4 separate regions of the Homo sapiens genome follow, and regions 1, 2 and 3 are each linked to region 4. Evidence: fine-mapped expression QTL. A gene starts in region 4. Each other region holds a variant in brackets. All regions are shown on one strand. Distances are between the middles of the regions. Region 1 holds the start of LOC124902589 (small nucleolar RNA U13). Region 2 overlaps ENTPD7 (ectonucleoside triphosphate diphosphohydrolase 7). Region 3 holds the start of CPN1 (carboxypeptidase N subunit 1). Region 4 holds the start of COX15 (cytochrome c oxidase assembly factor COX15).

Evidence for each region. PIP is the estimated chance that this variant, and not a neighbour inherited with it, causes the effect.
Region 1: its variant is fine-mapped to the expression of COX15 in subcutaneous fat (GTEx, PIP 0.95).
Region 2: its variant is fine-mapped to the expression of COX15 in whole blood (TOPMed, PIP above 0.99). The same link has a PIP of 0.9 or more in blood mononuclear cells.
Region 3: its variant is fine-mapped to the expression of COX15 in whole blood (TOPMed, PIP 0.98).

The regions. Positions count from the first base shown.
Region 1 is chr10:99,594,645-99,602,860 of GRCh38, forward strand. It overlaps LOC124902589 (small nucleolar RNA U13), which reads left to right and starts at 7,136; the gene lies at 7,136-7,236. RefSeq lists an enhancer at 1,122-1,622. The variant T/A (reference allele first, on the strand shown) is at 4,284.
Region 2 is chr10:99,687,291-99,695,506 of GRCh38, forward strand. It overlaps ENTPD7 (ectonucleoside triphosphate diphosphohydrolase 7), which reads left to right. Exons shown (of 13, transcript NM_020354.5): 7 at 1,404-1,460; 8 at 4,095-4,228. It also overlaps a transcript of COX15 not described here. Among named protein-coding and RNA genes, the nearest start is that of ENTPD7, 32 kb to the left of the region's middle. The variant A/T (reference allele first, on the strand shown) is at 3,873.
Region 3 is chr10:100,080,821-100,089,036 of GRCh38, forward strand. CPN1 (carboxypeptidase N subunit 1) reads right to left here and starts at 1,049. Exons shown (of 9, transcript NM_001308.3): 1 at 583-1,049. The coding sequence starts at 805. The variant C/T (reference allele first, on the strand shown) is at 3,821.
Region 4 is chr10:99,728,767-99,736,982 of GRCh38, forward strand. COX15 (cytochrome c oxidase assembly factor COX15) reads right to left here and starts at 3,361. Exons shown (of 9, transcript NM_078470.6): 1 at 3,194-3,361; 2 at 787-968. The coding sequence starts at 3,283. CUTC (cutC copper transporter) reads left to right here and starts at 3,468. Exons shown (of 9, transcript NM_015960.3): 1 at 3,468-3,643; 2 at 7,480-7,551. The coding sequence starts at 3,583. RefSeq lists an enhancer at 3,063-3,282.

The DNA of each region.
Region 1 (8,216 bases), 130 kb before region 4:
GGTGAGGGGGCACATGCATATATAATATATATTTGCATACATGTGCTTTGGATAAATTATGAAAGAGGATATACAGGGGCCAGGTACGGTGGCTCACGCCTGTAATCCCAGCACTTTGGGAGGCTGAGTCGGGCAGATCATGAGGTCAGGAGTTCGAGACCAGCCTGACCAACATAGTTAAACCCCATCTCAAAAAAAATAAAAATATTAGCTGGGCGCAGTGGTGCATGCCTATAATCCCAGCTACTCGGGAGGCTGAGGCAGGAGAATCACTTGAACCTGGGAAGTGAAGGTTGCAGTGAACCAAGATTGTGCCACTGCACTCCAGCGAAAAAGTGCGACTCCATCTCAAAAAAAAAAGAAAAGAAAGAAGATATACAAAATAATAACAGTGATTATACATAGTAGAATTATAGATTTTTATTTTCTTCTTTAGCTTTTTACATGTTGATTATATTCATTATAATTTCTATGTGTCATTATTCCTTTTTTTTTTTTTTTGAGACAGAGCCTTGCTCTGTCACCCAGGCTGGAGTCTGGAGTGCAGTGGCAAAATTGCAGCTCACTGCAATCTCCGCTTCCCAGGTTCAAGCGATTCTCCTGCCTCAGCCTCCCGAGTAGCTGGGACTGCAGCCATGCACCACTATGCCTGGCTAATTTTTGTATTTTTGGTAGAAACAGGGTTTCAGCATGTTGGCCAGGCTGGTCTCAAATCCCTGGCCTCAAGTGATTCACCCACCTTGGCCTCCCAGGAGGATCACAGGTGTGAGCCACCACACCCAGCCCGGATTTGATTCTTTAACCAGCTGAGTAGGTGTTATTTTATTATCCCCATTTAACAAAGGAAGTAACTTCCCTAAGTCACACCACACCTTTTATAAGAGGTGGACTTTGACACAAGCCCACATCTCCCAACTGCTTTGATATTTCTTTCCATTCTGAGACCCCATGTTTGTTAGCTTGTTTGAGTGAATGAGTGAGCTCTGAGCCTTCCCTCAACACACACACACCTCTACAGTCCTGTACTCATGTCCCCTTCCTTGCTATTTCCTCTGTGTGGCCTCTGCCAAGCACAACCCCGAACGCTTATGTGGGAAGGAACCCAGAAGGGGGTCTTTACCCAGTACTCAGTCTTTGCAGAGCTGGGAGCAGCCTGCTGCCCCCACAGGGTAAGATGATTTCTTTCACGCTGCATTAGCCTATGAGACAGGCGTTCTGGCATGCTGTTCCAGGAATCCTCATGAAAGGCCTGAAGGGGTAGGGGGAAGCAGGTATTCATTGCAAAGCATGAGGTTGAGCTGCTCTTTCCACCTGGAGGGTGATCTGAGCTCAGCCCACTGCACTGCAACTGGACACCAGGCAGCAACTGGCAGGGAGGTCCTGGAAGAGCTGGTGACACTGATGCTGTGTCATGCTCCTCAGAGGACACGACCCTGCCCTGCCCAGGGATTATAAATGGCTCTCCCGGGTATTGTTGGGTTTCTTTCCTTTCTACAATGAACTAACAGTCTCTGGACCACAGAACTATGGAGTATTTGAGTCATGGGAGGAGAGGAATAGTGTTGGGCAAAGAGACTGGTGGGAAAGAGGGGGACCCGGGCATGTACCCGGGCTGATGGGTGTGCACTGTGGGACCTGGACCTGCCACATGACTCCTCTAGGCCTGCTTCCTTCCTTACCAGATGGCCATGAGCTTCACAATTTTAATGACACCTACCTTGCAGCATTGTTTTAAGGCTTAAATTGGTTTACTTGCTCAACAAATTACTTATTAAGTACCTATTGTGTTCCAGGTCTTGTTCTTGGTGCTGGAGAACAGAAAAAGTCCCAGTCCTCATTTGGGGGAGACGGATGATAAACAAACATATAAAAAACTTCAGACAGCGGTAAGTGCAATAAGAGAAATAAAGCGGAATGAAAGGGATAGAGTGGTAGGGGAGGCTATTTTAGATAAGGAATTTGGGGAAGATCTCTTTGGGGAGGTGAGACTGAAACCAAGACCAGGAAGAAGTGAGCGAGTGAGCCAGGCCAAGCTCAGTAGCTCACGCCTGTAATCCCAGCACTTTGGGAGACCAAGGCAGGAGGATCACTTAAGTCCAGGAGCTTGAGACCAGCCTGGGCAACATAAGGGAGACCTCATTTCTACAAAACCATTTTTAAAAAATTAGCTGGGCATGATGTTTGCACCTGTAGTCACAGCTACTTGGGAGGCTGAGGTAGGAGGATCACTTGAGCCAGGGCAGTCGAAGCTGCAGTGAGCTGTGATTGCGTCATTGTGCTGCAGCCTAGGTGACAAAGCAACACCCTTTCTCAAAAACATATGTATAGGCCGGGCACGGTGGCTCATGCCTATAATCCCAGCACTTTGGGAGGCCAAGGCAGGTGGATCATGAGGTCAGGAGTTTGAGACCATCCTGACCAACATGGTGAAAACCTGTCTCTACTAAAAATACAAAAATTAGCCAGGTGTGGTGGTGCACACCTATAATCCCAGCTACTCAGGAGGCTGAGGCAGGAGAATTGCTTGAACCCAGCAGGCGGAGGCTGCAGTGAGCCCAGATCAGACCACTGCACTCCAGCCTGGGCGACAGAGCGAGACTCTGTCTCAAAACAAAACAAAACAAAACAAACAAACAAACAAAAAATGTATAAACAGGCCAGTTGCAGTGGCTCATGCCTGTAATCTCAGCACTTTGGGAGGCAGGTGGATCACTCGAGGTCAGGAGTTTGAGACCAGCCTGCCCAACATGGCGAAACCCTGTCTCTACAAAAAATGTAAAAATTAGCCGGACATGGTAGTGTGCACCTGTAGTCCCAGCTAGTCAGGAGGCTGAGGCATGAGAACTGCTTGAACCCAGGAGATGGAGGTTGCAGTGAGCCAAGATTGTGTCACTGCACTCCAGCCTGGGCAACGGAGCGAGACCCTGTCTCAAAAAATACATCTATCTAAAAGTAAAATAAATAAAAGATAAAGAGAGAGTGAGCCAGGTGGTATCTGGGGAAGAGCGTTCCTTGCAGAGGGAACAGCAAGTGCAGCAGGGTAGGATCACACGAGACAATGGATATGACAGCCCTGGGCTGTCATGTAAACACAAGGACCCTCCAAGCCGGCCACTCCTCACTGGCCTCCTGAACCTCTGACAGCTAGCAAAGAAGTGACCAATTACAAAAACCTAAGTATTACACTTTACATTTCCAAAGGTCCTGGGTCCCCTCCCGTGAGCACCACTCCAGGAACAGGCAGAAAGAGAATGGAAACAACTTTCCTCATGCCTCTATTACAGCACTTACGTCTCATGATCTCTTTACAAATCAGTCTCACCCCTGGGACTGGGCTCCTGCAGGCAGGACTGCTTCTCACTTCTTAGGGACCCTGAGGGGCACTGGCGAGCCACACTACCTTTGGAATCCTGCGTTGGAACGCTTGTTCTGTCATGTTCTTGCTGTGTGAGTTCAGGCATGGTTTTTTTTTTGCCTTTCTGAGCCTGAGCTTCCTCATCTGTAAGATGGGGGCATTTTTATAGCTAATTCCCAGAACTGTTTTGAGAATCAACTGGGCCCAGCATACTGTAAGTGCAAAAGTGTAGGTAAATTATTGTCATTGCTCACATTCTGAATGCCTGACAGTAAGTGCTCAAAAAATTTGGTAGAATAGAACTCAAGAGTAAGAAAATCCTCCAGGAAGAATTTCATGTTTAGAGCTGCTGCTATTTCGAGGGGATGTGCTTACCCTGCAAGTACCCAGGGAAGGATATAGTCATCTGTCTGAGAACACCTGTGAGACACGACATTGACTCAAGTTCCTAATCTGATCCCTTGCTCCAGAGCCTGTTTTGATGTCCTGTTCTTAGGTAGAAACCTTGTCAAACCATTAACATGATATGAACAGTTACAGTGTCTGATCTTCACTGGAAGCTAAGAAGTAGCATTCACTCCCCCACATATCTTTGGATGTCTTCCTGCTCCCACTAGCCTCCTCTGGAGCCATGTATGGGCCTTTCACTCACCCCACCCTGCCCCTGGCACTGTGTTGTAGCCACCTCTGAGATTTGTGGAAAGCAGTCTTAGAATAAGGTGAGCTAGGCAGAAGATAAAGCAGGAATCTCAGGATTTAGCCTTAAGTTCTCACGTCCTGGAGATGAGACCTGCAAGGACCATCTTGGCAATGTAATTGTGTGGGTTGGAAAAATGGAAAGAAGCAGCTCATCATCCTGGATAAGGGAGGATTTGCGGAAAAGGGAAAGAAGCGCTTGGTGCTTGGATTCTGACAGTAGGCTGATGGC[T/A]GGAGGCGGCTGGGCAGTGGAAGTGGATTCCCAGCGGCTGGCAGGAGTATGTGGCAGACAGGGCTGAGGAAGCTGTCTCCCCGGGGATAGCCTCCTTGCTTGCTCAGATTCCAAGTGACCGTCAGCATTTTGTTTGCTTTCCTGAGACCCAGCCCTGGCATGAAGAAATAATGGTGACCTTGAGACCCTCAACAAGCTGAATTACTAAACTTTGGTAAATCAATGCCAGGAATTGAGAGTGTTTAGCTCAAGTGGGCAGCAGACCTAGGCCAAAATGGCATTACAAAAACATGGAGGTCACTGTTAACACTGTGCACATGAAGTCAAAGTGGAAGTAAGCTATTAAGATCTTAGTATGAGTCAAAAAGGGCCGGCTGACAGTCCTTGGCTATATGACTGGGAGCAAGTGCCTTAACCTTTCTCAACATCAGTTTTCTCATCTATAAAACAGGAATAATAATTCCTGCCACATCTGACTCATAGGGTTCTCATGAGACTCAACATTTGAGCAAATTTAGAGCACATGATATCAAGTGATAGTACATGACTTCCTTTATGTTTCCCGCAGAGAGTGGTTGTGAGGCTCACCTGAGCAGCTACCTGCAATGATCAGCACATAATAGATGTGCAAGAATTATAATTCAATTGTTGCTTGTAAAAATGCTACACGTGAAAATGCAATATAAGTGCACAGAGTATTATAAAGTGTCAATTCTTATTTTCATCTTTTATTCATCTGCTAGCAGATAGGATTAATACACGATCCCACAGTCACCTGTCCAGCCAGGTAAATTTTTCCATCCCTGGTCCCAGGGGACCTCAGTAACTTCTTGCCATCCTCCTTACTCCTCAAGTCAGCCCCACACACGATCTCTTCCTCCTGAAGAACAATGCCTCTTACAGGCACAGGACTCCAGTCCCCTCCAATTTGGTCTTTGAAGCAAGACCTCCCTTTTCTGCTCTCAGGATCAAGCCGCCTCTCCTCCATACCTCCGCTTCTTCCTTGAGCCATGACTGCCAGATGGAGTGCCCTTGTCTCACCTCTCTTCTTTTTTCAGGCTCAACTCTTCTTCAAAATTCATACCCCTTCCTCTGGGAGCTTCCTCTGATTTACCCCACCCCACAGATCACTCAGCTAGTGTGGGCTCGGTTTGTGTTGTACAATTTGGCTTTTGCTGACGCTTGATTTTCTAAACGTTCTTTCAGCCCTGTGGCAGGGACTGCATCTTCTTCTGTCTTCACCTGTGCCTAGTGGAATATACTGTTTAAAGGAGGCAATCCAGGGAGAATATTCCTTGACCAAGTGTCCCTCACCTTATTGTTTGCCTTCCTAGGCCCCTCTCTAGCAGCAGAAGCTCCCCAAGGAGCAGTGCCACCCTTCAATGAAAAATCTTGCTTTAGATGTCAGTGGGGGTCCCTACCTCCCACCATACCCAGGGAAAGCTTTCAGTTAGTGCCTGCAGGGGACTAATTCTTCATGACTCACGGCTTTTCTATTCAGGTATAATTGCTCTTGTTCTCCAATTTGGCAGGGGCCTTGCAGCCAAAAGAAACCTGTGCAGGGAGTAAATCAGAGCATTGGGTCAGTTATCTTTGCAATGAACTGGGGTTTTTCTTCTAGTTTCTTTTTCTTTTTCTGTCTTTCTTTCTTCCTCTTTTTTTTTTTTTTTGAGACAGAGTCTTGCTCTGTCACCCAGCCTGGAGTGCAGTGGCGCAATCTCGGCTCACTGCAACCTCTGCCTCCTGGGTTCAAGCGATTCTCCTGCCTCAGCCTCCCGAGTAGCTGGGATTACAGGTGTGTGCCACCACGCCTGGATAATTTTTGTATTTTTAGTAGGGACAGGGTTTCACCACATTGGTCAGGCTGGTCTCGAACTCCCCACCTCAGGTGATCCGCCCGCCTCGGCCTCCCAAAGTGCTGGGATTACAGGTGTGAGCCACCACGTGCCCAGCCTAGTTTATTTTTCTTTTCTTTTTTTTTTTTGAGATGGAGTCTTGCTCTGTGCCCTAGCTGGAGTGTGGCAGTGTGATCTTGGCTCACTGCAACCTCCGCCTCCGAGGTTCAAGCAGTTCTCTGCCTCAGCATCCTCAGTAGCTGGGATTACAGGCACCCGCCACTATGCCCAGCTACTTTTTTTGCATTTTTAGTAGAGACAGGATTTCACCATCTTGGCCAAGCTTGTCTTGAACTCCTGACCTTGTGATCCACCTGCCTCGGCCTCCCAAAATGCTGGGATTACAGGCGTGAGCCACCGCGCCTGGCCTAGTTTATTTTTCTATGTATGCCTATAGACAGATGCCCAGGCTGTGTCCCCACCCCCACCATGGTGTGGTTCTAGGCATGCCCTGGGAGGACCAGAATCTAAGACGTCTGAGCTGATGTCACTGGTGGGGAAATGCTTAGAAAGAAAGAGCAATCCTGAGTTTGCTTCAAGGTACAGATTTGCTCCCACATTTCTCTTCCATTTTCCTTTGGTTTCTGTTCCCTCTGCATTTATGTGCATGCTCAGCAGTGGACATATAAGATAAAGAAGATCCTGTCTGTCCTGAGAGTCTCACAGTCTGGCAGAACTTCCTACCCCACTAGTGGGAAGCCTCTTAGAGGGTCCCTGGATTCCTGCTCTTCTCTATTGTGCTCCTAAATTTTGAGGTTAAAGATCATTTTAAGAATCTTATGGATTCTCTACCCTTGCTCCAAAGGCAGACATATTCAATATTTTGCATAAAACTCCGAGGGGTTTATAGACCCGGTAAAGCCCATCCACAAAATCCACAAGCTCCACTAAAAAAAAAGTCAACAAGGATGAGAAGGGGGAAGAAACTTAGAATGGAATACAAATAGAAACAAATGCATCCTTTTGTAGCCCGTGAACATGATGATTTGGGTTTTCACACACATGTGAGATGTGCCTCCTTCAAACCTTAAGACATCAGCATGTTACCTGACGTGAAAAAAAAGGAATGAACTTAACTCATTTTAAATAACTCTATTTTAAACAAATAATATTGCGATGCTGAAGGGAGGATAAAAACCAAATAAACAAGCCCAACAAATATTTAATTCTAGTTAGAAGGAGTTTTTTCTGTAGTGATATGGGTGAGCAATTCTGAAATACCTTTTGTGTGCTGTAGAGTTGCACAAATGAGTAAATGTACTGAGGATATTGGAAGCTAGTTCTTGCTGTTGGAGAGGAGAGTTATAAATATGGAGAAAGGGAGGACTAAAATGAATTTTGTGGTGTTGAGTTGGAACTGGAGGTATCTATATGAATCCATGATTTTGTGTGTGTGTGTGTGTGTCTGTGTGTACAGATGTAGAAATTAAGATAAAATATGTATATTTCTTAGCTCTGTGGGCTAAAGGGCCTAGAAGTAGACACTACAGTAGCATTGAGTATACCTGGCACTTGGATCTTGGTTTCTAAATACCATTTCGTACTAAAAAAAAAAAAAAAAAAAAAAAACTAGGGCTCCTTGGAGAAATGACTAATTCTAGGACTGAGAGGGGGAAAGTACAAGATAAGCTTAGAATATCGTGTTGTGCCAGAAAGCAAGGAAGTGCTTTTTAAAAAATGGAGATATAGAAAAAGAACACAGGAATCAGAAGGGACCCCCATTGGCCAAATCTGGGAGTATTCGAACATCAGCATAAATAATGGTAATTATTTATTATCATCACAGTGGTATTACAGCACAATATTACAGTGGTAATATCACTATAGAATAGCCATAGAATAAAATAATCTATGAGCTCATACGAATATAAATAAATAAAAGAGAAGGGATAGCTCTCTCTTATAGCAGAAATGATAACATCAGAATATCATCTTTGTGCAACCATGATTTAGACAGGAATTATCAATGGATGCTAAAACTAGTGGATAGAAGTTTGATAAAGAAGAGGATATGTACATAGATTCAGAGCACCCCCAT
Region 2 (8,216 bases), 41 kb before region 4:
GAGTCTCGCTCTGTCATCCAGACTGGAGTGCAGTGTCGTGGTCTCGGCCCACTGCAACCTCCGCTCCCTGGTTCAAGCGACTCTCCTGCCTCAGCCTCCCGAGTAGCTGGGACTATAGGCGTGTGCCACCACGCCTGGCTAATTTTTTGTATTTTTAGTAGAGACGGAGTTTCACTGTGTTAACCAGGATGGTCTTGATCTCCTGACCTCGTGATCCACCCACCTCAGCCTCCCAAAGTGCTGGAATTACAGGTGTGAGCCACCGTGCCCAGCCTATTCATTCATTTTTCAAAGCCTTGGCCACTGCTATTTGGATTTGTCCTGTGTATCAGCCAGTGGCTAATCTGGAACCTGGGCAGTGGCCTAGCCTGTAGTTCAGCTCTCAGAGCTGTTTGGATATTGTTTAGGGTCAGATCCATGTATTTGTAGCTTGGAGGTGAGCCCAGGGGTTCATACACAACTTTGCTCCCTACTGTCTGTGATCCCTCTGCCACTTTCTGGTTCCTTGGAGCTCCCTTTCATGATCCTCCTGTCAGAATACCAGGGCTTTAATTTGCCCACTCTCTGCCATGCACTTCTCATGACTGCATCTGCATCCAGGGCCAAGCGGTAGGAGGACAGAGGGAGCCTAAATAAACAATAGGATTTGTTTCACAGTCTTGAAGCTACAGCTTCTCTGGTCAGAGAAAAGAATTCAAAGCCCTCAGAGTTTTAGGTACCTGCTCAAATTCTACCTCTGTTGCCTAAGGTTAGAGAGAACAAAATAAGAAAGAAAAAAAAAGCAGGAGATTTCCCTTATTTTCTCTGAACTTTTGGCATTCCTTTTTCTGTTCTTTGGACCAGAAAATGAGTTGAAGTTCCTCTGTTCACACCTGGTGTTTACTTTCATGTTTCAAGCTGCTCTTAAGTCTAGACCAGGTAATATCTGAGGGGGAAAAAATGGGACACTCACTACTGGCTTGGTGGTAGTTTAAACCCTGGTCTCTTTCCCGGTGTGCTCATTATCATTTACTTTCAGAGTTTCCAGAAAGCTGCTCCATGCATTCTATCTAGAGTTTATATTTGTATTCAGTGGGGAGACAAGATTGCCCAGAACTAGAACTCCAAAATTTACATTTTTTCTTTTTTTTCGATATCTTCGTGACATTCAGATGATTTATACTTCTTAGACATTTGTTATACAATTAATTTCTATTCATTGAGGAAATTTAGAAGATGCAAATAATTTTAAAAGGGAAAAAAATCACAAGATGAAAGATTTGAAATTCCTACATTGAGAGTATGGAATAAAATACTATGATTACTTTTTCCAAGAAAAAGAGGAAAGAGAAGCCCTAAGGGAGAGGTGTATACATGGCATAGCAGTAGAGAATTAAGTGAGGGCTTTTCTGTTTCTTACTTAGGGGTTTATGCATGGATTGGAATCAACTTTGTTTTGGGAAGATTCGACCACGAGGATGGTGAGTAATATTGTCTTTTTATGACAGTTTACCTAAGGGCTGAAGATTTAAGTTATAACCTATCAGTAGCATGTAAATGCAAATTTTGAGTTGTTTTTCTTTTTTCAAACATAAGATGCTTCATTTTCCAGTCCTAATTTGCTTTCTTTGATTTCTTTTTAACTTTTTAATATGGAAAGTTTCAAACATTCACAAAAGTAGAATAATAAAATGAACCTCCATGGACCCATTACCCAGGCTCAATATTTACTAATGTTTTGCCATTTCTCCCCCATATCCCCCCATGTATTAAAGGTTTTTTTTTCTCATTGAATGTTTTAAAAAGCAAACCCCAGACATGTAATTTTTATTTTCATGTATGTCAGTATGTATCTACAACAGATAAGGGGTTTCAAAATGAACAAAAAATATATCCATAATGCCATTTTTAAATTTAATAGAATTAACAATTTCTAATATCATACAATACGTATCTAATACCCTATCCAGGTATAGATTTTCCTGATTTTCTCAAGAATGTTTATTCGTAGTGGGCTTGTTCAAATCAGAATCTGAACAAGGGTCATGCATTGCATTTGATTAATATGTCTCTTTAGTCTCTTTTAATCTATAATTGTTAACCTTACCACCTCACTCCCCTGCCTTTAAAAGCAAGAAAAAATTGGATCACCTGGTAGAAAGAATTTGCCACATGCTAGATTTGATTGACTGCATCTTTGTGGGGTTAACATGTTTTCTTTAACATGTTTCTTATCCCCTCATATGTCCTTTAAACTGGAGGTCAGATATAGATGTTTGATTAGACTCAGATTCAATTCCATCTGCAAGACTAAATCATAGAAGGCGCTGTGTGTTTTCCACTACTCACATCAGGAGTTTTGTAATGTCTGGTTGACTCACTTTTTGTCATGCTCAGACTGATCAGGTATTGAGAGTTCAAGTATTATCAGCCTGATCTAACTTAGTATTAAAATTCCTTATCTGCCTTTCATGGAATTGTGGTAATAGCCAATTGTGATCATTGCTTGGACATGTTTTTCATTAGAGATTGCAAAATGGTGATATTTCTAATTCTGTCATTCCTTCTGCATTTAACAGCTAGAATTTTTATGTAATGAACTTTTCTTGATCAACTCTTTGGTTACCCTGACATATAGTTCTTATGGGAAAGACAGAATAAATCCTTGATTCTTTTTATTTATCACATTTCTGAATAATGAGTTGGTGTCTAGCAACTTCCAAAGGTAACCAGTGAAAAAAAAGTTTTAATTATTATTATGAACTCATGGATTTTAATATATTAGATGCATTAGAGCCCATCACATTATTAGTATTTTAAGGAGCATCTTTAGGTTGGCTGCTGTATCCTTTTAATATGACCCCAATACTCTTTTATATTCCCCTTGCTATCTGGTACAGCAATGTATTCCAGGGTCATCTTGTATACTTTCTACCCTAGACCTGGCATTGGCCTGTTTTTAAAAGAGCCCTGGTTTCTTTTAGTAAAAGATGGTATTTAGAGATTATTGGTCCAGATACCACAGGTGGTCATTACTCCTGGGATATCATTGCTTCTAGGCCTTTCAGTGAACACAGCTAGGAAATATGTATTTTTTAGAAAGAGAAAAATAAATGAGTTCATAGTCATATTTCTGACTCATATGTAAGATTATAGGGTGCTATTAATTTATTTGATTTTTATACCTATATCCTTTTTGTTCTGTTATGCTGAATCTTTGTTCCTAAAGATATTGACATAAACATTTATTTGTTTTATTCCACAATATGTTTCATAATTTTTTTTTTTTTTTTGAGACAGTCTTGCTCTGTCACCCAGGCTGGAGTGCAGTGGTGCAATCTCGGCTCACTACAACCTCCGCCTGTCGGGTTCAAGCGATTCTCCTGCCTCAGCCCCCTGAGTAGTTGGGATTACAGGTGTGCAGCACCATGCCCGGCTAATTTTTGTGTTTTAGTAGAGACAGGGTTTCACCATGTTGGTCAGGCTGGTCTCGAACTCCTGACCTTGTGATCTGCCTGCCTCAGTCTCCCTTCATAATTTTTAAATAATAAAACCAACAATATTGTTAACAAGACTACTGCGATGTAGCTTAAGATATTTGTTTCTTTTGTCCTTAGGCTATATCCTACTAGGGATACGTAGTCAAAATGTCATGTTTAAGTAATTCACAAGAATTATTCTTTGTGTAATATATAGTTGATTCAGTTAGTATACTTGTTTGCTTTCTTTTTTTTATTTTGAGACAGGTTCTCTGTCACTGAGGCTAGAGTTTAGTGGTGCGATAATAGCTCACTGCAGCCTCAAACTCTTGGGCACAAATGATCCTCTGGCCTCAGCCTCCTGAGTAGCTGGGACTACAGGTGTGCACCACCATGCCCAGCTAATTAAAAAAA[A/T]TTTTTTTTTTTTATGAGAGTGTCTCACTATGTTGCCTAGGCTGGTCTTGAACTCCTCGGCTCACATAATCCTCCCACCTTGGCCTCCCAGTGTTTTGGGATTACAGGTGTGAGCCATGGCACCTGCCTGCTTTCAAATTTTCAAGGGATTGCTGTTTTGGGGGTTTGACTTAATTTTATTTTTTAATTACTAGGGCCTTTTTGTTCTCTTATTTATTTCAGAATCAGATGCTGAGGCTACCCAGGAATTGGCAGCAGGACGGAGAAGGACAGTAGGGATACTGGATATGGGAGGAGCCTCTCTCCAAATTGCTTATGAAGTTCCTACCTCAACCTCTGTCCTTCCTGCAAAGCAGGTACTTTACCTTTTAGGGAAATTTAGTTGCTAGGAATGCTAGTATTTGAGAAGGAAGGACACTGTCTTTGGACTTAGACCAACCTACCTGGCTCTAAATATTTGTTCAGATACTTGCTAGCTTGCGTTATCTTGAGTAGGTTACCTCTCTGAGCCTCAGCTTCCTCCTGTGTGAAAAAGGAATAATAATAGTATCTACCTCATAAAGTTATGAGGATGAAATAATACCATGTTTGTAAAGCATTTAGCAAACTGTCCAGCATAAGTGTTCAATACATTTTAACAATTATAACTATACTAGGTATCTCCTGCCATTGCTGAGGATAAACATGATAATGCATTTACATTCTGGAGCACAGTATTTGATACATATCTATTGTTCAATAAATGTTATTCCCTTTCCCCTTACTGATGATTCCATTCTGGGCCTTCTAATAATCCTTACCCCACTAGAATGTAAAGAATGTATTTTGAGGGAGAAGTTTCATCCTACACAGACACTTTTTGTACAGCCATTATGTACACCTATTATGTACACCCATTATGTGCAAGGAATAGACAATATTATGTACAAGGAATAGACATGTGAGTTACACTGTCCCTAAAAACTTATAATTTATCTGTCAGTGGAGACAGCTTGTGATATCAGGGAGACTGTAGCAGTGCTTAACTTGATCTAAACCAGGGCTTCTCATCGTTGGCACTCTTGACATTTTGGGTCAGATAATTCTTTGTCATCAGGGGTTATCCCATGCATCATATGATATCTCTTGCCTATACCAGATGTCAGTAACAACCCTCCCCCTTCCAGTTGTGACAATCAAAAGTGTCTCCAGACATTACCAGATGTGTGGGGCAGGGTGGAAATTGCCCATCATTGAGAACATCTGGTTTAAACAGAGAGCTGTGGCAATATGGGGACTGGCAGCCAACTTAGCTTGCAAAGTTGAATGGGAGCCATTCTTGCTTCATGGAAGGTAAAGTATTTACCTGGGCCTTGGATGAGAGTAGGCTTTTTTTTTTTTGCAGAGTGGAGGCTGAGGGAAGGCCACCTGCATGGAGGGAACACTATATACAAAGGCACAGAAAAAGCAGCACAGAGGCCAGAATGTCCAGGGAATGACGAATAGCCTTTTGCAGTATAGGATTTTCAGGTGTGCTAGTAGTTAAGACTGGGAAGATAAGATGGAGCTAAATCATGAGCAGTATTGAGTGCTATCATAAGGGGACTGGCTTTTATTTCCATAGATAGTGGAAAACCACCAAAAGTTTTTGAGTAAGGCAGTCACATGGGCCTCAGTTTCATTTATAAAATAATTAAACTGTGAAGGTCCTTCTCAGCTCTGAATTTTGTGATGATGTCAGTTGTGTGACTGTGATCTGATCTTTTTGTAGTGAAAAAATTTTTGTGTCAGTAGGAGAAAGAATATAGGTCACGGAACCTTGAGTGAGAAGTAATAAAGGGCTGAGTTAGACAAAGTAAGTGGAAATGAAAGGGAGGGGACAGATTTCAGGGGATAGTTTGGAGTGAAAACCCAATGTAATTGAGCGATTGATTGTGGTAGTGTGAGTAGGGTGGGAGGATGGCCAGCAGTGCTGAGGATCTATCCTAGATAACCAGAAGACTGAGGAACCCAGTAACTGAGAGAAGAGCAACAGGGGTAAGGGCAGGGGTGATATTAAGCAAACAGTATTGTCCTGAGAGATCTGGATGAGAGCGTCTATCTGGTCTTCTAGTTCAGAAGTTGTAAAACTAATGACTTCAATTTTGGATATATTGAGTTTAAGATACCCAAGGAACATATATGTCAGAATATCCACAGGACTGTTGGAAATGTGAGTTTAGCAGTCAGCAGAGAATTTCATGCTGGGGTTGGAAATGTGGGGGACTAACTAGGTTGTGATACTTTTTAGTCTATATTCGTTAGTATGTATTTAACAGGTAAAACGAAGGCATGGATCTGATACTAAGAAATAGGTGACAAGCGGGACTGGGGCTTCAAGTCTTAAAGAAATGACTTTTGTGTGTGTGCAGATTTAGAAAGGAACATGGTTATGGAAAGCAACACTGGTACGGAATGCATACTTGCAAGCAACAAATTAGATTTACATATAGCAGGCCGGGCACGGTGGCTGACGCCTGTAATCCCAGCACTTTGGGAAGCCAAGGCGGGTGGATCACCTGAGGTCAGGAGTTTAGGACCAGTCTGGCCAACATGGTGAAACCCCGTCTCTACTAAAAATACAAAAATTAGCTGGGCAGGGTGGGCAGGCACCTCTAACCCTGCTACTCAGGAGGCTGAGGCAGGAGAATCGCTTGAACCTGGGAGGCAGAAGTTGCAGTGAGCCAAGATCGCACCACTGCATTCCAGCCTGGGTGACAGAGTGAGACCCCATCTCAAAAAAAAAAAAAATAGTAACTACACATAGCAATATAATGGCTCTTCAAGATGAATCTTAGTGCTTGGTAAAAATGAAAGAAACTGTGAGACAATGGCATTTAAAACATTTTAAATAATCCTGAATGCCTAATATATTTTTTTGTACAACTCACAAAGTTATGTACATTCACAAAGTTGTGCAGCCACCACTATTGAATTCCAGAACATTTCATCGCCCCAAAAAGAAACCCCATATTCACTCCCCACTCATTTCCCATTAGCAGTCACTCCTCATTCTCTCCTCTCCCTACCCCTGACAACTATTCATCTACTTTCTCTCTCCAGTGGATTTGCCTATTCCGGACATTTTGTATAAATGAAATCATACAATATGTGGTGTTTTATGTCTGGCTTCTTTTATTTAGCAAAATGTTTTCAAGGTTCAGCCATCTCGTGGTATGGGTATTTCATTCCTTTTTAATGGCTAAACAGCATTCCATTGTATGACCAACCATGCTGTATTTTGTTTATCCATTTATCAGCTGATGAACATTTCAGTGGTTTTCCCTTTTTGGCTATTATGCACAGTGCTGCTGTGAACATTCATATACACATTTTTCTATGTACATAAGTTTTTTTGTTTTTTTTTTTTTTTGAGATGGGGTTTCACTCTTGTCACTCAGGCTGGAGTGCCATGGCACGATCTCGGCTCACTGCAACCTCTGCCTCCCAGGTTCAAGCGATTCTCCTGCCTCAGCCTCCTGAGTAGCTGGGATTACAGGCACCCACCACCATGCCTGGCTAATTTTTGTATTTTTAGTAGAGACGGAGTTTCACCATGTTGGCCAGGCTGGTCTCGAACTCCTGGCCTCAAGTGATCCACCCTCCTTGGCCTCCCAAAGTGCTGGGATTATAGGCATGAGCCACCATGCCCACCCCAGTTTTTGGATCTCTTGGTATGTACCTTGGAGTGAAATTGCAGGGCACAATGGTATTTTTCACAAATTAAAAAGAAATACATTCAAAACAAGAATCCTCATTTTATAATAATACATATATACAAAAATTATACATAACACATTAGAATGGTTGCCCATGGCAGAGAATGGAATGAGATTAAGTATGAAGATAAAAGAGAATAAATAAATAAAGCAAAAGAGAGGCTTTGCCATGATAATGTGGAATGAGCTGAGGAATATGATTAATTCAGCCTCTGCCCTTGAGGTTCAAGAAAAAAATATAGCACCTTTTCATTGGCGGTACAATAAAATTGAACTTTCCCAATCCCCAAACCTGTCATAAGGAACCTTAGGGCTTCTTGGATAATGTTAGAAAAGGCCACAGAACCGGGCACAGTGGCTCACACCTGTAATCCCAGCACTTTGGGAGGCTGAGAAGGGCTGATCATGAGGTCAAGAGATCGAGAACATCCTGGCCAACATGGTGAAACCCGTCTCCACTAAAAATACAAAAATTAGCTGGGCATGGTGGCACGTGCCTGTAGTCCCAACTACTCAGGAGGCTGAGGCAGCAGAATTGCTTGAACCCGGGAGGCGGAGGTTGCAGTGAGCCGAGAGCATGCCACTGCACTCCAGCCTGGTGACACAG
Region 3 (8,216 bases), 350 kb after region 4:
AGGTGGAGGCTGCAGTGAGCTGAGATCATGCCACTGCATTCCAGCCTGGGCAACAGAGCCAGACCCCGTCTCAAAAAAATAAAAAATAAAAAAGAATCCAGTAAATAAAACTGACACCCAAGTCCCCAAACTCTCTCTGGAATACCACACTGTCACTCCCCGAAGAGATTCCCCTATACCCTTCTAAGTTTCCTGGCAGAACTAGAAGGGCTCATTGTTTTTGCCTATGTCTCCTGAGCCATTGGGTGGGGAAAGACAGAACAATAGTAAGGGGAAAAGAAAGGAAATGGGGGAAATGAAGGGATATGGGACATGAGCAGGGAAGAAGACTCATCTTTTACCATTAAAGTTTTGAGCAAACAGAACCCAAAAAGGAGGAAAGATCTGAAGGCTGAAGGAGGGTTATAGCTCCCCAGAGGCAGTGGCAGTTTGAGGGCTAAGAGGGAAATAGCACAGGCTGAGAAAGAGATAATACCTTGTAGGCGGAGGCGTCCACGGACCACCCCAGAAACCACTCCAATTACTGGATTTGCAAGGGAAAGGCCCTGCCCCACACACCCTCAAGAGCTGTTCAGAACTTACAGGGCTCGTGGATTCCAGGGTGGTCGCTGAACTCCAGCACGTAGAGGTGTCTCCCCTCCACGCTGCGCCCAATGCTGTAGACCCGCGTGATGCCGGGGCATTCGTTTTGCACCTTGTACAGCGTCCGCACAAGATCATCATAGCGGTGGTGGCGAAAGGTCACCGGGGCAACCAACTTGAAGAGAAGGAGGAGGTGGAGGAAGACTGAGAGCAGGTCTGACATCTTGCTGGGCTTTTTCAAAGAGAGCCACTGAAACGCGCCCCACCTCCTTAAACAACCTAGCCTCTTCACCCGCCAAAATCCAAGGTCCACCTAGCTTCCCGCTTGTAAACACCAGTCCAAATTGGAAGACGTTCCCAGCTGTCCGTCCAAGGCTGGAAATTCTTTATGTCGTTCTGGAATAGCCACTCATCTCTCCTCCCTCACTCCCTTTCTTTCTCTAATCCAGGAAAGCCTTTTGAAAGGTTTTTTGCACTTCCCCAGATGGGTAGTTTCACTGATTCTGGTTTACTGGTTAACTGGACTGTAAACAGGCTTCAATAAATAGCTGCTTATAACCCTTTGATTCCTGGAGAATTTTTTAAAACTTGGCCTGTGCCTGTTCCTTTTATTACAACTTTCAAAAAGAGTTCTCTGTCCCTTTTGATCCATCCCACGTACTGCTGCCTGCCTATCTTTCTGAAGCATGGCTGTATTTTGTCCTTTTTTTCCTCAAAAATCTTTCAACAGATGCCATTAAGAAAAGGAAAAGATTAGCCTCGGACTGGGAGAAAACAATTGTAAATCATGTATCCGATAATACCCCCATAATACGTAAAGAATCCTTACAATACAATAAGAAAACAAACAACCCAATTAAAACATGGGCAAAACATTTGACCAAAATAGATATACAAATGGCTAATAAGCACATTTAAAGATGTTCAGTGTCATTAGTCATTAAGGAAATACAAATTAAAACCACATGAGATCCAGTCATGGTGGCTCATGCCTATAATCTCAGCACTTTGGGAGGCCAAATTGGGAGGATCACTTGAGCCCAGGAGTTTGAGATCAGCCTGGGCAACATAGCAAGACCCCACCTCTACAAATATTTTTAAAATTAGCTGGGTGTGATGGCATGCCTGTAGTTCCAGCTACTAGGGAGGCTGAGGCAGAGAATCACTTGAACCTGGGTGGTGGGGCCTGAAGTGAGCCATGATCATGCCACTACACTCCAGCCTGGGCAACAGAGTGAGACCTCATCTCAAAAAACAAACAAACAAAAATCACACATGAAATATACTTTACCTCCACTAGAATGGCTACAATAAAAAAGACAGACAATAACAAATGTTGGTGAGAATAGGGAGAAACTGGAACCCTCATAAATAGTGCAGCCAGACCAGGTGCAGTGGCTCATGCCTGTAGCCCAGGACTTTGAGAGGCCGAGGCAGGTGGATCACGAGGTCAAGAGATCGAGATCATCCTGGCAAACATGGCAAAACCCCCTCTCTACTAAAAATACAAAAATTAGCTGGGCATGGTGGCACACGCCTGTAGTCCCAGCTACTCAGGAGTCTGAGGCAGGAGAATTGCTTGAACCTGAGAGGAGGAGGTTGCAGTGAGCTGAGATCACGCCACTGCACTCCAGCTTGGTGACAGAGCGAGACTCCATCTCAAAAAAAATAAAAAATAAAGATAAACAAATAAATAGTACAGCCAGTTTGGAAAACAGTTTAGCAGTTTCTTACAAGGTTAAATATATACTTACTATATAATACAACAGTTTCACTCCTAGGTACCTATGCAAGAGAAATGAAAACACACATCCACACAAAAACTTGTACATAAATGTCCATAGCAGTATTGTTCACAAGAGACAAAAAGTGGAAACAACCCAAATGTCCATTAACCACTGAGCGGATAAACAAAATATGGCATATCCATACAATGAAATAGTATTTGACAATAAAAAGGAGTGGAGTGCTAATATATTGTACAATGTGAATGAATCTTACACATGCCTGGTAAAAGAAGCCAGACCCAAAACACCACAAGTGGACACAAAATTTCTTTTTAGAGTGATAGAAATGTTCTAAAATTAGATTGTGGTGATGGTGATGTCTATACAACTCGATAAATATACTAAAATTCATTGAATTGCATACTTAAAACAGATGAATTCTATGATATGCAAATTGTATCTCAATAAAGCTGTTTTTAAAAGGGAATAAAAAATAAGTACAGCCCTCTGAAAGAATTAAATATAAATTTACCATACAACTCAACAATTCCATTCCTGGGTATGTACCCAATAGAACAAACTTGCCCACAGAATGTTCACAGCAGCATTATTCATAATAGGCAAAAAGTAGAAACTACCTAAATGTCTATCAACTGGTGAATAAATAAAATATGATATAACCATACAATTGAACACTATTCAGCAAAAAAAAGAATAAAATGCGACTACATGCTACAATGTGGATGAACTTCAAAAACACTATGCAAAGTGAAAGAAGCCAGACATGAAAAAAACACATAATGTATAATTCCATTTATATGAAATGTCCTGCAAAGGTAAACCTATAGAGACAGAAGGTAAAATAATGTTCCCCTGAGGTTGGGGATGGGAATGGAAATTAACTGTAAATGGGCATGAGGGATTTATTTTCTAACGGATGAATCAGCCACTCAAACTGGATCCAAGGAAGATCTTATTGGAGTGATGGAGATGTTCTAGAACTGGGTGATGGTAATAGTTGGTCAGCTTGATAACTTTACTAAACATCATTTAATCATAAACTTACCGGGTACGGTGGCTCACGCCTGTAATCCCAGCACTTTGGGAGGCTGAGGCAGGTGGCTCACTTGAGATCAGGAGTTCTAGACCAGCCTAGCCAACATGGTGAAACTCCATCTCTACTAAAAATATAAAAATTAGCTGGGTGTGGTGGCACCCGCCTATAATCCCAGGTACTCAGGAGGTTGAGGCAGAAGAATTTCTTGAACCCGGGAGGCGGAGGTTGCCGTGAGCTGAGATCATGCCACTGCACTCCAGCCTGGGCGACAGAGAGAGACTTCATCTCAAAAAAAAAAAAAAAAAATCATTTAATTGTAAACTTAAAAAGGGTGAAATTTGTGGTATGTAAATCAGACCTTAAAAAATTGGTTTTTTAAATTTATTTGTTTATTTATTGAGAGAGAGTCTCACTCTTTTCACCTAGGCTGGAGTGCAACGGTGCAATCTCCACT[C/T]ACTGCAACCTCTGCCTCCTGGGTTCAAGTGATTCTCCTGCCTCAGCCTCCAGAATAGCTGGGATTACAGGCACCCGCCACCACGCCCAGCTAATTTTTGTATTTTTAGTAGAGACAGGGTTTCACTATTTTGGCCAGGCTAGTCTCGAACTCCTGGCCTCAGATCATCTGCCCACCTCGGTCTCCCAAAGTGCTGGGATTACAGGCATGAGCTATTGCGCCTGGCCTAAAATTGTTGTTTTTAAAAAGCAAAGTTTCAATGAACATTCATGTACTGTCGTGTAAAATTCAAATGCCTCAGATAGCCTTTTTGTCCTTGCTACCAAGTCCAGTTGTAACTTGTCATCCTGTCCCTCATTCTAGTGCAGCACTGTTGCTCCACCTACTATCTTTGGAGAATGCCCCTGCCTTCCTGCTTTCACTCATGCTATTTCCCTAGGTAGCTCAATCCAGCTCAAATTCTGGGTCTTCCTTACCTCCCCTTGTAGTTGCTGCTACAATCAGTCTTTGTACCTCCAATTCCTATCACTTTCTCTGTTATGCACTACTCACCATGTTAGGTGTTGGGTGTCAGGGTAGAGTGCAGCCCTGCTGGCACACTGCTCTTGCTCTCCAGGGTGATCTGCAGCCCCCTAGCATAGAGCTGGGCACAGGTGCTCAACATTTGTTGAATGAATGAGTGAGTGAATGAATGAACACACAAATCCATTATTGACTTTCCCCCTTGCATCCTGCTGCTCCGTCTTTAGCAAACTTTCCCAAGAAAATCCTATGTTTTTATAACCAGTCAGTAAAGACAGCGATTCCATCTTGGATATACTGGGTGAACACTATGTGGCCAGGCCAGTCCGGCTCACAGAGAGGTGGCCCAGATAGTCACAGAGGGTTGGCCCTGATAAGAACTAAACTGGCAGTACCAAACATCTGCTGCCTATACCCACAGCTCAAATCCCATAATTTTCTGAGGAGAGCCTGTCCCCCCAGGTGGTAAAGGTAGGAATCAAGGCATCACTAAGGCTGTCACACATTAAGCCTTTGATCTAGGACAGTATCTACTGTCATTACTGAGGGCTTGGCTTAGTAACTCCCCAGTGTGCCTATGGTTCTTTATGGGGCCTCACTCATGCCAAACAGATGAATCCCATTCTCCGGGAGAGGAATGCACCCTCTCTACCTGTTTGCACAGTGGATTCTTGTAAACAGGGAATATCCTCTGTCAATGAGAAGTATCAGGGATGAGGTAGCTATGCCTTCCCTGGAATTCCACAGAGTACCAGAGTGATGCCTGCAAGCCAGAGGGCATACATCGCCTCTCAAAGCAACTAGAAGTAAAAGGTTCATGGCCTTCAGTGTCAGAGGGATATGATTTCAAATCCAAGTGCAACCCTTTCTTAGGCCATTTGACCTTGGGCAAATGACTTAACTTCCCTAAACCTCAGTTTCTTTCTGTATAGGATAGGGAAATATAGCTCCTCCCTATGGGTTGTTGTGTGGATTAAATAAGATGTTGTATGTAAGGCCTTTTTCACAGTGCCTAGCACATAGCAAGGGCTCAATAAATATTAGTAGTAGTAGAAATAGCAGCAACAACATCATTAAGCATCTACTTTGTGCTAGAGACCATGCCAGGTGATGGGGATAAAAGTCATTCATTCAACAAATATAGTAAAGTCTTTACTACTAAAAGCCAAAGGCTTTACATATAATGTCCTTTTTCAATCTACAACAAAACCAACAAAGATCCTGCCCATGTGGTGCTTATATTCCAGTGAAGAAACAGACACAATTAAGAGTGAAAAAGCAGTCTCTCTCCTCACAGATACAGAAAAGGAAACAAGCACAACACAGAGGGATGAGTGATGAATATAACCACATAGGACCACCAAGCAGGTTCACCTCACCTAGTTTTGGGAGGTCAGAGAGGGCTGGCTGGAGGATCTGCGGGAGTGAAACTAACAAGATTATTTTTAGAGTCCTGTCTCCCACTGTGGTATGCACAATAGTGACCCTCCCAAAAGTGTCCACACCCTAATCCTTGGAAACTGAAATGTTATGTTACATGGCAAAGGGGAATGAAGTTTGCAGAAAAAATGAAGGTTGCAGCCCAACGTGGTGGCTCACACCTGTAATCCAAGCACTTTGGGAGGCCAAGGCATGAGGATTGTTTGAGCCCAGGAGTTTGAGACCAGCCTGGGCAACATGGCAAGACCCCATCTCTACAAAAAATCAAAGGTTAGCCAGGCATGGTGGTGCATACCTGTGGTCTCAGCTACTCAGGAGGCTGAGGTGGGAGGATCGCTTGAGTCCAGGAGGTCAAGGCTGCAGGTGAGCCACGGTCATGCCACTGCACTCCAGCCTTGGTGACAGAGTGAGACCTGTCTCACTGGCCTCAAAGATGGTGGAAGAGTACCACGAGCTACAGAATGTGAACACCCTCTAAAAACTGCAAAAGGCAAGGAAACGCATGCTCCCTGGGACATCCAGCAAGGAACACAGCTCTGCCGGCACCCTGATATTAGTACAATGAGACCCATTGCAGACTTCTGATCTCTAGACCTGTAAGATAATACATTTGTGTTGTTTTAAAATTTGTGCTCATTTTTTTAACCACAGCAATAGGAAACAAATACACCCCCAAATACCCACACAACTGGGGCTCCTGGGGAGAGGCTGGAACAGAAAGCTTCATTGTCTGACATCCTTCCAAGGTCTTGATTCAAATCTTGGGCAGCTAGCCCTGCAAATGGCTGTATAGGTCTGGACCAAATGGTATCATCAGAGTTCTTTCTGTTTCTTCTCCTCCTCACCCTAATTTTAGGCATTTCCTTCTTTCTGGGTTCTCAGTGTCCTCAATGTTGTCCCCGCCTGGACAGATGCATCTCCATTCTGCCTTAGGCAAATATTAATAACACTTTACAATTCTATGTTGCCTTACAGAGTACCAACTACTTCTTTATTTATTCCTCCCAAGGAGGAGGGTACCGTAATTTCATTTTAGAAGAGAAATTTTCCCAGAGTCACATAACTAGTAAGTGGTGGAGGAGGGCCTGGACTCTGGCACAGTTAGCCTAACGTCCTGCTCAATGCATTTCAGTGAATTCAGATATGGAACAAGGGTAGGAAGCCACCAGAGACAGATTAGCAAAGAGAGTACGTTCAAATCTGGAAAGGGTTGGAAGGAGACAGAAGGATATTTACCCTTAAGTAGGGACATGGGGGCAATTGTCCTCTTTCCTTTGTCTTCTTTCCCTAGACCTAGACAAAGGAGAGAGGAGAAAGGGGAAGGGAGAGGGTGAGAGCAAGAGCAAAAGAGCAAGCAAGAGAGAGAGAGAGACAGAGAGCAAGCGAGCGAGAGAGAGAGAGAGAGAGAGAGAGAGAATGCCAGCCCTGTGTAGGCAAATGAACCAACCTTCCCAAACCAGAACTCTACTTATCATAGTTTTAAGATTTCTTTCTTTATATCCCCAGCAGTAACTCTGCAGAGAAGTCTTGATATAATTTAACCCTGCTCAATAAATGTTAGTTGACTGCACCTATAAATGAATCAAGAGTTCAGGCTGGGTGCGGTGGCTCACACCTGTAATCCCAGCACTTCGGGAGGTCAAGGCAGGTGGATCATTTGAGGTCAGGAGTTCAAGACCAGGCTGGCCAACATGGTGAGACCCTGTCTCTACTAAAAATACAAAAACTAGGCAGGTGTGGTGGCGTGTGCCTGTAATCCCAGCTACTTGGGAGGCTGAGGCAGGAGAATCGCTTAACCCTGGGAGATGGAGGATGCAGTTAGTGAGATTGCACCACTGCACTCCAGTCTGGGTGACAGAGTGAGACTCCGTCTTGAAAAAAAAAAAAAAAAAAAAAAAAGAGTTCAGCTTAGTTCAAATCACCAATCACTCTTTGAGAGATATTTGGATTTTAAGTGTTATGAGAGGGGTGGAGCAAAGGGAACCCAGCAAAGTCTGGAAGGCAAGGAAAGTCAGTCCTCAAGCCAGACCAAGCCCTTTCCAATTCTCTTTCCCATCCATCTCATACTTCTGGTCTTAGCACCACGGTCAACAACACTGAGAGAACTTTCTCAATCATCTCTTCTGGAACTTTCCCTGGTCATGCTGTCTGATCATCCTGCTTATTTCAGTCAGTATTGGGCTGCCAATCTGTAATTACCTTGTTTATTCGCTTTCTTGTTTATGGACTGCCTCTCCCAGTAGAAGCTAAGCTCAATGAAGGCCAAGACTATTTTATCCTACTGTTCACCACTTAATCCCAGTACAATGTGCTGAATAAATGAAAAACCAAATGAAGTTATGTCTGAACTGAGATCTGAGATCCTAATGAGGAAATGTTAACCAGATGAAGGGGGTAGAGAAGCTTGGGGTGGAATGGGGAGAGTTTTTGAGAG
Region 4 (8,216 bases):
AGCAAAATCTAAACTGTGCATAACCATAGGACAAATGACTAGAGTTTCCTCAGCAACTAGAAGAGGGGGAAAGGGAGGAGTGTCTAAATCTATAGTCTCTTGATAGATTTAAACAAACCTAAGAAACATGAACCAATTGTGATGTACAGAACTTCTTTGGGTTTAATTCAAACAAACTGTAAAAAAAGTTTTGAGACAAACTTGGACTCTGATTGAAAGAGAAAAGATACATAAACAATGCACAGGTACCAGTTAAGACATAAACCAGTCTTTATAGAAGGCTCCTACTAATAAAACACTCAACTGTTCTATGGCAGGGCAAGCCATCAGACATGTTCCTTCTTTAAGGCCTCGGTTTCTCCATCTATACAATGAGGGAGCTAGACTAGATGCTCTGTAAAATTCCTTTCTCCAGCTGGGCATGGTGGCTCATGCCTGTAATCCTGGCACTTTGGGAGGCCGAGGTGGGCAGATCACCTGAGGTGAGGAGTTTGGATCAGCCTGGCCAACATGGTGAAACCCTGTCTCTACTAAAAATACAAAAAATTAGCCAGATATGGTGGCACGCGCCTAGTCCCAGCTACTTGGGAGGCTGAGGCAGGAGAATCGCTTGAACTCAGGAGACGGAGGTTGCAGTCAGCCGAGATCACACCACTGCACTCCAGCCTGGCCAACAGAGCAAGACTCTGTCTCAAAAAAAAAAAAAAAAAAAATCCTTTCTCCTCAGTCAACCTGTGCTTCTACTGATGATCCAAATACCTGACTCACTACGAGCAAATTACTTACCTAGTTACTCCACCAAGAATAACTGCTCCAGCCACTGTTCCACTGCAGACCAGGAGCCATCGGCCCACCACCCGCTCAGCAGCCTTTGAGGGAAGGGACACTGTACCCCTTCCAGATTGCAAAGCTACTTCAGAGATGGTGCTGTATTGCCCTGGCCTCAAAGGGCGCCTGATGCAATCACACTAAAGATCAAGATAGACAAATTACAACTGGAGAAACAGGGAATGGCTGCTACCCACACTCAACCCCATTCTGATTAGCGCGAAGTACCATAGCATCCCCACAGCCATGTCTTGTTAAGTCATCATCTCTTATCTGGATTACTGCATCAGCCTTCCAACTGGTTTTCCAATTGGTTTTCAAATCTAGCCTCACTCAAACCTATCCCCAACTACATGAATCTTCTCATCTCTGAATACTTCCCTCAGACTTCACTCTACTTACAGATATGGAATATTTTCTTTCACCTCTAGGTCTTTCAACATTTCTCTCTGGCTTGTACACTTCCTTTCCCCTGATTAATAATACCTACTGCAGATCTCCGCTTACATGTCACCTCCTCTGGGATGTATTCCCAGGCTCTTCAAGGTCTGCAATAGGTCACTCCCACAGCACACTGGAAAGCCCTTAATACACTGTAATGTACAGTCAAGCATCACTTAACAACAGGGGCACATGTTCTGTGAAATGCATTCTTAAGCAATTTCATCATTGTGTGAACCTCATAGAATGTACTTACACAAATCTAAAGGCTGGGTGTAGTGATTCACACCTGTAATCCCAGCACTTTGGGAGGCAGAGGCAGGGAGATCACTTGGGTCAGGAATTCAAGACCAGCCTGGCCAAAATGGTGAAACCCCATCTTTACCAAAAATACAAAAATTAGCTGGGCATGGTGGTGTATGCTTGTAATCCCAGCTATTTGAGAGGCTGAGGTGGCAGGATCACTTGAACCTGGGAGGCAGAGGTTGCAGTGAGCCAAGGTCTCACCACTGCACTCCAGCCTAGGCGATGAAGTGAGACTCCATCTCTCAAAAAAAAAAGTACTTACAGAAATCTAGATGGTATCGCCTACTACACCCCTGAGCTATATGGTATGACTTATTGCTCTTAGGCTATAAATCTGTATGGCATATTATGTACCGAATACTGTAACACAATGGTATTTGTTTATCTAAACATAGAAAAATTACAGTAAAAATATGGTATAAAAGATTTAAAAATGGGGCCAGGTGCAACGGCTCAAGCCTATAATCCCAAGGCTTTGGGAGGCCAAGGTGAGAGGATCACTTGAGGCCAGTAGTTCGAGACCAGCCTGGGCAATGTAGCGAGACCCCCTATCTCTATTTTTTCAAAAATTAGGCACAGTGGCACACACTTGTAGTCTTAGCTACTTAAGTGACTGAGGTAAGAGGATGCTTGAGGCCAGGATTTCCAAGCTGGAGGCTGCAGTGAGTTATAATCATGCCACAGCACTCCAGCCTGGGTGACAAAGTAAAACGCTGTCTCTAAAAAAGAAATTTAGAGAAAAAGATTTTTTTTTAAAAAAAAGGTACACTTGGAAAGGCAGCTCCATTATAATCTTATGGGACCATGACTGTATCTGTGGCCTGTTGTTGACCAAAATGTTGTTATGCAGCACATCACTCTACCTTCAGGTTCATCTGTTTGTATCTCCCACTAAACTATGAGCTTTGGGGTGGCAGTGTCCGGTCAGTCTTGCTCTCTCCCTTCTGCTAGCTTTGTTTCTAACACTGTTCCTTTATATAATGAGACCATGATAAGGATTTCGCAAATGAATAAACTGACTTCCTCCAGGGCAGGAGTCTTGTAATATTTATCTTTCTTTTTCCAGTTCCTAATATATAATAACCACTCAATAATTACTAGTTAAGCAAATGCATGCCCTCTTCTTACTATATCCCTGTGAGTCCAAAGATCCATGCTCGGTTTCCTATTTCTGATTAACTGAGTCACCTTTAGAAAAGTAACTTTAAGCCTCAATTTCCTTCTCTGTAGGATGCAGTAATACTTCCTCATCTGACTACTTGGAACTTTTTAAGCAAAAATAAACTATATGGGTAAAAATTACTCAGCTTTTACCATGTGCTAAAGGCCTGATGTATATTAAAGAATGTAATCCTCATAACAAACCTTAAAGTAGGTATTGTTATCCCCATTTTACAGATAAGGAAACTGAAGAACAGAAAGTTTAATTAACTTGGCCAATACCACACAGCAGGTCAATGTTCCAGATCTGAACCTAGGGGCTCTGATCTGAACCTATGCGTTGTGAGTGCACTGTAAGGAGCTCCGGAAACGTGATGTGGGGCTCTACATTATCTTTATCCCGGCCCTTTCACTCCATCCCCGCTCCCGCGACTCGGAGTCCGCTGCAGTGCGGTACCTGTGCTCTAGGCGCTGCCCTAGGAGCCAGGAGCGGCAGATACTGCCTCCCCTTCAAGGCCCTCAACGGCGGAAAGAGCAATCGCTGCATACTGATGACAGGGAACAGCCACCTCTTCCACAACCCAGGGCTCTGTGGTCTCCCTCCTCCGCCAAGGAAAAGAGAAGCACTTCCGGGTCGGGCAGCGGGAGCCCCGCCTTCTCTGGGGACCGGAGCGAACAGAAGTGCGCCTGCGTTGCGACTCCGCTTTCGCGGGGGCTGCTGGGGCGTAGGTGTCGGGGACGCGCGCACGGGCGCGCGCAGCTGTTGACGCGCTTCTTAGCTGGTGCGCGCCGGAGCCCAAATTCCAAGTGGAAACTGCAGGCGCACGAGGGAGGAACGCGTGGAGCATGAAAAGGCAGGGGGCCTCCTCTGAGCGAAAACGAGCGCGGATACCGTCCGGGAAGGCCGGTGCGGAAGGTGGCGGGGGAGGGGACGGTCGGCCGAAGGCTCCCCGGGGCGGGCCGGCGGGAGTCGTAGTCAGTGGTGATTTCTTCTGGAGTCGTTTCCTCAGCTCCTTCCAGCCCCTTGGGCGGCACCTTCTATCTTTGAGGCGTTAAAGGTGTGGAAACGGAGGGCGTGACGAGGGGCAGGTAGCGAGAATGGCTCAGCTGTGGAGCCAAGGTTCGAGTCCCGGGGTCCCCTCATAACGGCCCTGCGACCTTGTGCAAGTTGGTTAACTTCAGCTTCACGTTTTTTCCGTCGCCACACGAGGATGCCAGTACCGCCCGCACCAGCAGCCAGTACTCCGCTGGGATAGTTAATTGTCGAGCGCGGAGCCCAGTTCCTAACCTGCAGTTACCTGTAGCTGCCACGGCGGGGACGGGGCTTGGTCCCCAAAGTCACGCAGCTACCAAGTGGCCGAGCTTGTGGCTGCTCCAAGACCCGAGTTCTTCCTGAGTGCCAGGGTAGCATGGCATGGCAGGTGCCAGAGAATTTGGCAAGTCCCTCTTCCTCCGTGAAGAGGAACCTTCCTAAAAGTTATCAAGAATCCTCAAAGATTTTTTCTTTATGTGGATTACATCTATCTATTTTGACTGTATTAGAAATTAAAACAAATTTTTTTTTGGGAGGCCGAGGGGGACAGATCATCTGAGCTCAGGAGTTCGAGACCAGCCTGGCCAGCATGGTGAAACCCCGTCTCTACTAAAAATACAAAAATTAGCTGGGCATGGTGGCAGGCGCCTGTAATACCAGTTACTCGGGAGGCTGAGGCAGGAGAATCACTTGAACCCGGGAGGCGGAGGTTGCAGTAAGCCGAGATCGCGCCACTGCACTCCACCCTGGGCGACAGAGCGAGACTCCGTCTCAAAAAAATAAAAATAAAATTAAAACAAAATTTTAAAATATTGATTAGAAAATAACCATAGTAAACCCATTACATATTGACATAATATTTTTTTGAAAAAGAAATATTCCTAAACAACAACAACAAAAAAAGCAAAAGAGTGGAAATATATTTTTGCAAGTTTCTTCAGTATATCTTAATGGAAGACAGCTGGATTCTCATGCCCGCTGCTTCATTCAGTCTAACATGTCAAGTAGCCTCTTGAAAACGCCTCTTCACGGAGGTTGCAGTAAGCCGAGATCGCGCCAATGCACTCCATCTTGGGTGACAGAGTGAGACTCTGCCTCAAAAAAGAAAACGCCTCTCACTTGTGAGAGAATTAAAGTGAAAAAGTCAAATAAAGTGTTAGAATTATTAAGAAAACGGTTGTAGCCCTGCAGACTCTGAAAAGTCTCAGAGGCTCCCAAAGCTCTCTGGACTACTACACTTTGAGAACTGCTGCTGCTTCTCCTTTGATCCTATAACTTTGTTGCTTGGGACAACTGCCTTGCTCTGCCTTCTGTCATAGCCTTTTTTATACATCTCTCCATCTTCTCCTGCCTAGGGTCCTTTCTTGTGTGAGGCAAATAGTCCCCCGGCAGCATCAGCATCGGCCAGTGCCACTGATCTGACAGCTGGTCTGGTAGCTACCAGGAAACTCATGGAGTTAATAATGCAGAGCTGTTGGTTAAGAGCATAGATTGACACTTAACCCTTTCACAGTTTGGGACTGATAGTATTTTTTTTTTTTTTTTTTTTTTGAGACGGAGTCTGGCTCTTGTCGCCCAGGCTGGAGTGCAGTGGCCTGATCTCAGCTCACTGCAACCTCCACCTCCCAGGTTCAAGCAATTCTCCTGCCTCAGCCTCCTGAATAGCTGGGATTACAGGCGCCCGCCACCACGCCCGGCTAATTTATATACTTTTAGTAGAGATGGGGTTTCGCCATGTTGGCCAGGCTGGTCTCAAAATCCTGACCTCAGATCCGCCCACCTTGGCCTCCCAAAGTACTGGGATTACAGGCGTGAGCCACCGCGCCGGACAGGGACTGATAGTCTTAAATAAGTAAGGCAATTGCAGTTTGATGTTAGCAGATGATAGGTTTTTGTTTTATTTGTTTTTCAAAGTAAAAATTGCTTTTTTAAATTATAAAAGCAATATTGGGTAGAAAAAATAAAGCAATAAAGAAAAGTAAAAAGAAGAAAATAAAAATAATTTCAAATCACACCCCACCAGAAGTGACCATTACCAGTATGTGAGGAACATTCTAGTAAGTGTCATTACATGAAGTGTGCATTGTTTCGTTCATTTTTTTAAATTATGTGCTCCCGGAAAAAAACTCAAAACTCTGTTTACATCACACTTTGTAATATAAATACATTAATTTTGTTGTAATTATTCAGCTTTTAGTAAATATTTGATTATTGTGTACCATGGTAGATACTGTGCTTGGTGTGGGTGATGATAAAGATTTCTCACATAAAGACCTTACTTAGGAGGCCAGACGTGGTGGCTCATGCCTATAATCCCAGCACTTTGGGAGGCCGAGGCTGGCAGATCGCTTGAGTGCAGGAGTTTGAGACCAGCATGGGCAACATGGCGAAACCCCATCTCTACAAAAAATACAAAATTAACCAGGTGTTGTGGCACATACCTGTAGTCCCAGCTACTGAGGAGGCTGAGGCACAAGAATTGCTTGAGCCTGGGAGGCGGAGGTTGCAGTGAGCCGAGATCATGCCACTGCACTCTAGCCTGGGCGACAGAGCAAGACTCTGTATCAAAAAAAAAAAAAAAAAAAAAAAAACAAACTTAGGAACTCTAAGTCAAGTAGAAGTGATCAGATATTTATCTGCATAAATAATAAAAGGTAGAAAGTAATTCATATTTTAAGAAGGAACAATTGGGGTTTCATAACTCATGAAGAGTTAAATGAGTTCAAAAGAGGGACATAAAATTTTCTACTTTGGGAGACAGAAAAAATCATGGAAATGTTCCTTGAAAAATTTTATTCAGAGATGAAGCCAGAAGGAACTCTGGGTTGAGGAGAAGGCATTGGGGAGCCAGCGGTAGGGACTGGAGAGATCTGGAAGCATAAGAAGGAATGAGACAGAGTATCACTCTGTCACCCAGGCTGGAGTGCAGTAGCACAATCTTGGCTCACTGCAACCTCCACCTCCTGGGTTCAAGCGATTCTCATGCCTCAGCCTCCCAAGTAGCTGGGATTACAGGCGCATGCCACGATGCCTGGCTAATTTTTGTATTTTTAGTAGAGACAGGGTTTTACCATGTTGGCCAGGCTGATCTCCAATTCCTGACCTCATGTGATCCACCCACCTCGGCCTCCCAAAGTGCTGGGATTACAGGCATGAGCCATCACACCCGGCCAGATAACTAATACTTTTTGATTCTTGAGACTATATACTTTACATGAATTATCTAATTTAATCCTCACTACTCTGAGGTACATACTAAAATCTACCTTGTTTTATAGAAAACTTAAGTAACTAATCTAGGATCTCACACTAAATAGTTGGTGGGACATGGATTTGAAGTCTGTCCTGCTTTTAAACCTATATTCCTTATAAAGAAGTTTAAATATATTCTGCAGGCATTGAGAAGCATTGTAAGAATCTCAGCTGGAATGTGATGATGAGGTCTATGTTTTAGGAAGATTAATTTGGCATTCGATAGACATTTTCCTCAGTATAATTTTTTATACATCTGTCTGTGTACCTATTTCAGTCTATAGGCATCAATTCAATAATTAATGTGATATTTTATTGCATTCATGGGCCCTAGTGTACTTATCTATTACCTGTTATTGGACATTTGCATTTTGGCAGCAGAATGTAAACCCTTTGTGGTAAATTGGTCTGGATGGATAGAACCTTTATGAACTCTTACCATTCTCCATGTATTTTAGGAGCAGCAAATGGATTTCTCATGGAAGTTTGTGTTGATTCAGTGGAATCAGCTGTGAATGCAGAAAGAGGAGGTAAGAGAAATCAGATAGTGAATGACCGTTGGCTACCCTTTTAAGAGTCTGAAAATTAATCCTGTGTGCTTATCTCAGAAGCCCTTGTGATCTCTAAGCATCCCTCATAATGCTTTCAGAAACAACCAATTAGAAACCCTACTGGAAAATTATGATCTAGTCTCTCCCTCTCCCCAAGTGGGTCACATTTTAAGTCAAGTGTCGACAATAGTACTTACTCAATGACTTGATTTTTTATTGAACTTAGCAAAATTTTAATTTTTTTAAACCATTAACTTAAAGATGACTTCAGAGACTTCATCATGAGGAATTTTATCTTTTTTACTTTTGAACATTATCTATTTTTCCCTCAAAGTTTCTGTTGTACTCTGAACCTGTTTTAATGGGAAGCACAGACATTTCCATCATCTCAGGTTCAGAAAAATTAAAAAAAAATTTTATTATGGAAAAATAAACATATACAAAAGTAGAGCAAATAGGATAATGAAGCCCCATGTATGCATCACTCATCTTCACCCATTTTCAACACATGGCCAGTTTTTCATTTATTTCAGGGGTCAATAAACTTTTTCTGTGAAGAGCTGCATAGTATATATATTTTCAGCCTTGCTGGACACATTTGATCTTTATCACTTATTTTATTTTTAAATCTTTTGAAAATGTAA